Linked DNA regions of Homo sapiens: region 2 is linked to region 1. The links come from fine-mapping of genetic effects on gene expression. A gene starts in region 1. The other region holds a variant in brackets. All regions are shown on one strand. Distances are from middle to middle.

Region 1 (2,729 bases):
AGTCTCAGGGCTGGGGTCCTCCGTCTCCACGGAGGGCTCCTCTTCCAAGCAGAAGTCCTCCTCCACCTTCACAATCAGGATCTCTTCCTGTTCCAGGTCCTGCTCCAAGGTTGGCAGGGGCTGGAGGCCAGGGACAGTGGCCATTGCTTCCGGTGGGCCTTGTTCCTTTTCAGGCCTTAGAGTTGAACCTGTCTCTCTCTATACCTCTGGCCAGACACAGGAAGAGAGTTTTTTTCAGGGCCCTGTGGAGAGACGATAAAACCATCTGAAGGGCAGCCCTGGGGCTGGATAAGCCCTTTGGCCTGGGAAGCCCCTGCCCTGGTTCCAAGGCCAGCTCACCCCACCATGGAAAAGGAAAAGGAAGTGGATGAATGTCATCTTTGTTATTAACCCCCTGTTAATTCCCGGGTAATTTACTGAAGGGCTCTGGGCTTTGCTTCCTCACTGGGCAAACAGAGATGATAACAGGACCTACACACACAGGTTGCTGACAGAACTAAAAGGGATGGCTGGGGGCAGTAGCTGACGCCTGTAATCCCCGCACTTTGGGAGGCAGAGGAGGGCAGATCACGTGAGTTCAGGAGTTGACCACCTGGTCAACGTGGTGGAACCCTGTCTCTACAAAAAATACAAAAATTAGCCCGACATGGTGGTAGCACATCTGTAATCCCAGCAACTCGGGAGGCTGAGACAGGAGAATCGCTTGAACCCGGGAGATGGAGGTTGCAGTGAACTGAGATAGCGCCACTGCACTCCAGCCTGGGCGACAGAGAGAGACTCAAACAAAAACAATCTAAAAGGGATGTTTGCGGTCAGAGCTCGAGAATCGTTATTTTCCATGATTAGAGTGGGTCCTATATGGAAGGGGTTCCTTTGGAAATCTGATGAAAAGTAGGGCCTTTCTGCAGACTCTGCCTCAACTTGATCCCCGGTGTCCAGGTCTGGCGAACCCTGAAGCCCCTACGCGGCCCCGTCAGGCACCCCCGCGTGGGTGGTCACGACAGCCCCCCAATTCCAGGGTCCTGGGAGAGCTGGGACCCCCAGGCCGGGCTGCTTTCCCGTCTCATCCCTCAGGTGGAGGGTGAGCGGTACCCGAGGCCGCGGCACAGACCCGGGTGCTGGCGCGGGCCGCGAAATCGAAGCTTCGGCCGGGACCCGCGTCCCCGCGCCCCCCGCACTCACTGGAAGCGCTGCCGGCCGTGGGCAGTTCGGGGCAGGACCGGAGCGGCGGGTCTCGGCGGGAGTAGGACTGCGGGCCTCAGGCTTGGCAGCCAGGGACGCCAGAGCCGGGGCCGAAGACCCTAAACCAGGGGTGCAAACCAGGCCGTGCGGGTGGGCCCGCAGGCGGCATTGTGGGTAACGTAGCCGTGGCACCATTGGCTAAGCCGGCCGTTGGGGGCGTGGCAACACGGCCGAGTGGGCGGGTCCGCGACGTGCACTGTGGTTAATGTGGTCCTCAAAGGCACGCATTGTGGGTAACGTAGTCCAGCACCTCGGTGACCGCGCGAGCGTGCGGCGACTCTGCAGCCTCTGGGCTACTTTCCCAGTCACTGTTCCACACCCGCTCCGCTCTCCTCTGGCCGCCTCCTCCATCTTTAAAGCCAGCAAAGTCGTCCGGGCACGGTGGCTCACACCTGTAATCCTAGCACTTTGGGAGGCCGACGCGGGCGGATCACCTGAGGTCGGGAGTTCGAGACCAGCCTGACTAACGTGGAGAAACCTGGGCGTGGTGGTTCATGCCTGTAATCCTAGCTACTCAGGAGGCTAAGGCGCAGGTTGCAGTGAGCCGACATCCTGCCATTGTCCTCCAGCCTGGGCAACAAGAGCGAAACTCCATCTCAAAAAATAAATAAATAAATAATAAATAAATAAAATAAATAAAGGCAGAAGTTGTTCAAGATAAAACTGGAAGAGATGCCAAGTGCTTGCGCCCACCCTCCCCCAAGAGGGCCCCCAACAACGTCCAACCCCAAATATCCCTTGTCCTGCCTGCTTCTTTCTGACAACATAATAATGGGCATCAATCTTTGTTGTTGTTGTTAGAGATGAAGTCCCACCATGGTGCCTAGGCTGGTCTCAAACTCCTGGGCCCAAGCAATCTTCCCGCCTCAGCTTCCCAAAGTGTCAGGATTACAGGTGTGCCCAGCCAGGTATCAATTCTTGTATGTATGTATTTATTTATTTAGAGACAGGGTCTCACTCTGTCGCCCAGGCTAGAGTGCAGTGGCTCGACCTTGGCTCACAGCAACCTCCGCCGCCCGGTTTTAAGCAATTCTCCTACCTAACCTCCCGAATAGTTGGGATTACAGGCACGAACCACCAGGTCCGGCTAATTTTTGTATTTTTAGTAGAGATGGGGTTTCCCCATGTTGCCCAGGCTGGTCTCCAACGGCCTCAAGCAATCCACCCACGTCAGCCTCCCAAAGTGCTGAGATTACAGGAGTAAGCCACCGCTCCCGGTCGCATCAATTCTTGAGCATCAAGCAAGCAAAACACATTTGTACTTCGTTTCTTCCTCATTTAGTAATAGAGGTACTATAACTAGACCTACCGGTTCAACAAAACAAAACAAAACCCTGAAGCTCTGAGAGTTTTAAGTATTGAACCCCCCAGAGAAGGTCAAACAGGAAGTACAGAAATGGGATTGGAACCCAAATCTTTGATTCCAGAACTTCAGCTCCTAACTACCAGGTTAACGTAGTTTGCCCCTAATCCTAACTTGGGCATCC
Region 2 (3,012 bases), 39 kb before region 1:
GCCTCATCTCCTCTGCGTGGGGCGGGCGCCCTCCAGGCGGCCATGCTGCAAGAATCAGAAGTGATTACACGAGCACACACGAACACCGTGGCCTGCAGTGGTTCGCATCTCTGTCAGGGTGGCCACGGAGCCCCTCAGGTTTCTGGGCCTGAGTTCCCTCGTAGCTCACCTGGAGAAGAAAGTAGGCGATGCTCTCGTTGCCACAGCTGGAGGCCAGCATCAGTGGAGTCTGCCCTTCTGGGGTCGGCACATTCACACTCACCCCCGCCTCAAGCAGCAGGTGCACGATTGTGTCGTGGCCAATGTAGGAGGCATACATCAGCGGGGTCCAGCCACCACCATTCTTCTTATTCAAATCTAACTCTCTCCTAAACAAACGCAAGATATGCTAGACATGGCCAGCCGCCTCGCATGTGGGGTTCACCAAAGCTGGTGGCGAGGCTAGGCCAGGCGGGATGAGTTGACAGGAAGCAGAAGTTATCTGCCACCCTGGACGTTGTGGGGATTGGAGGCAGGCAGGCAGAAAAATGCTGACAGTTGCTCGTACACTGCCTTGTGAGGCCCTGAGCCTTCGTCTCCTTGCTCTGATTTCGCATCCTCCTAGCCCAAGGCCAGCTATGCTCTTTCACACCACCAGATAGGCAGATGGCACTCAACCAGGGAATATGTGGCAATGTGTGAAGGCATTTTTGGTTCTCACAACTGGGCAGGGAAGGGCTGCTGGAGGCCAAGGCTGCCGCTAAACATCCCACAGTGTCCAGGACAGCCCCCACAGCAAAGAATGATCCAGCCTGGATTGTCAACACAGCCACAGTTGAAAAACCCTGACCACCACAGGCCTGGCATCTACTAGCCCACTGCTGGGTGGAGAGGAGCAGTGAGGAAAGAAGGGACTCCACCGTGGACAAGTCCCACCGCCACTGATTCATCCTTTGTCACCTCACCTTAAAGAAACATTCTTGAAAAATCTGTGACCAAAGAATCCCATCTTTCTCACTGATTGCTGTTAAAATTCTGGCAATGCATTTTCCCATGGGAAAAAACTGTGGGCTTCCTAGCTGCGACTCTGGGGTTGGGACAAGGGAGTCACATTTAAAATAATACCCACTTGCATGGTTACCTGGGATCCTACATGGTTAACGCCCACAGGCCTTCTTTCCCTTCCCCAGTTCTTGCCTGCAGAGGGGATAACAACTGGTGACTGAACCCCAGGATCTGTCCCTTTTACGGGATTCACTTTTTTGTTGTTTTTTTGAGACAGAGTCTCGCTCTGTCGCCCAGG[C/A]TGGAGTGCAGTGGCGCGATCTCGGCTCACTGCAAGCTCCGCCTCCCAAGTTCACGCCATTCTCCTGCCTCAGCCTCCCAAGTAGCTGGGACTACAGGCGCCCGCCACTACGCCCAGCTAGTTTTTTGTATTTTTAGTAGAGATGGGGTTTCACCGTGTTAGCCAGGATGGTCTCGATCTCCTGACCTCGTGATCCACCCGCCTTAGCCTCCCAAAGTGCTGGATTACAGGCGTGAGCCACCGCGCCCAGCCGGGATTCACATATTAGACCACAGCAGGCAACTACCTTCCATTGCCTGGCAGCCCTCAGTGACTCTGGGATGCACACCTGGGCAGCCATTCCAGAAGGTCCTGATACCAGGGTTCAGTGGCAGCCCCTGGCCAGGGGGGCTGCATGGAGATGCCTCTGCAGCAGGGCTCGAATGCACCCAGCTCGTCCTAACACTATCTTCCTTTACACAACAGCAGAGCATCTCCCTGGGGCTCTCTTACCACTCCTCGTTCAGCCCCACCCCTTCCTTCTGATGCCCCCAGCTCCCCTCAGGCCCCATCCTGTGCTTACTATCAGCAAGCCTCCACCTCAGCTAGTGTCAAAATCCCATCACAACACAAACGCCTCCCCCTGCTCCTCTATGGAGCGGTTATGGACTCTGCATCTTAACAGGACACCCAAAGACTTAAGAGCCTGAGAATTCCAAACGTGACCCTTTGAGGGGCCGTACTGACTGCATACCCAGCTGCCTATGCCTAGAGCCTCCTGTGGAGGGAGCGCAACAGACCACCCTGTACCAAGGTGCACCAGCACTCCATGGGCTGGGTATGTCTAAGTGAGGGCCACAACTTGGGAACCGGAGACCTGGGGCTTCAGCAATGCTTTGCTTTGGCTCACTGGGAACTGGAAGAGGCACGCAGAGAGAGGAAGAGAGGTCGCTGCACCACAATATCAAATGAGAACCAGGAGACAGAGTTAGGCTGTGTGTGGAACATAAGGGGGTGGAAGTGAGGAGACGACCCTTTTCCAAAAACAAGATGATCACATCCTACTATGGGCAAGACGCAGCCATGGACCCTGCCAGGGGCTTTATATTGTCTCTAACTATTGTACACAGATTAGCAAAGGGCAGGTGGGCAGTGACGTCGGGAGGTCATTCCCCAGAGGCACTGAAAGCCCAGCCTCTCTCCTCCTCCATGGCAGAAGCTAGAGGGGAACAGGGATCACAGGGATCGAATGAACCCTCCGGGAAAAGAAGGCCAGGGATCACTTTCTTTTTTCTTTTTTTTGTTTTTGAGACAGAGTCTCACTCTGTTGCCCAGGCTAGAGTGCAGTGGCGCAATCTCAGCTCACTGTAACCTCCACCTCCCGGGTTCAAGCGATTCTCCTGCCTCAGCCTCCTGAGTAGCTGGGATTACAGGTACATGCCACCACACCCAGCTAACTTTTATATTTTTAGTAGAGATGGGGTTTCATCATGTTATCCAGAATGGTCTCAAACTCCTGACCTCAAGTGACCCGCCCATCTCAGCCTCCCAAAGTGCTGGAATTACAAGTGTGAGCCACCGCACCAGGCCATCACTTTCTGTCTTTATTTTTATTTTGCTTGTTTGTTTGGGCATTTCTGCAATTAGTGAATAAAATTAGTCTGGTTAAAGAATGACTGTTTATAAGCTTCTGATCAAAGTTTACTCCCTCTTTTTCTTCCTAGGAATAAAAACGGCCTCTTTGTCAGGGC

Evidence for each region. PIP is the estimated chance that this variant, and not a neighbour inherited with it, causes the effect.
Region 2: its variant is fine-mapped to the expression of ZNF500 in whole blood (TOPMed, PIP above 0.99).

Annotation. Positions count from the first base shown.
Region 1 is chr16:4,765,835-4,768,563 of GRCh38, forward strand. ZNF500 (zinc finger protein 500) reads right to left here and starts at 1,328. Exons shown (of 6, transcript NM_021646.4): 1 at 1,183-1,328; 2 at 1-242. The coding sequence starts at 144. RefSeq lists a silencer at 1,075-1,374 and an enhancer at 2,567-2,646.
Region 2 is chr16:4,726,810-4,729,821 of GRCh38, forward strand. It overlaps ANKS3 (ankyrin repeat and sterile alpha motif domain containing 3), which reads right to left. Exons shown (of 18, transcript NM_133450.4): 4 at 170-368. Among named protein-coding and RNA genes, the nearest start is that of ANKS3, 6.0 kb to the right of the region's middle. The variant C/A (reference allele first, on the strand shown) is at 1,283.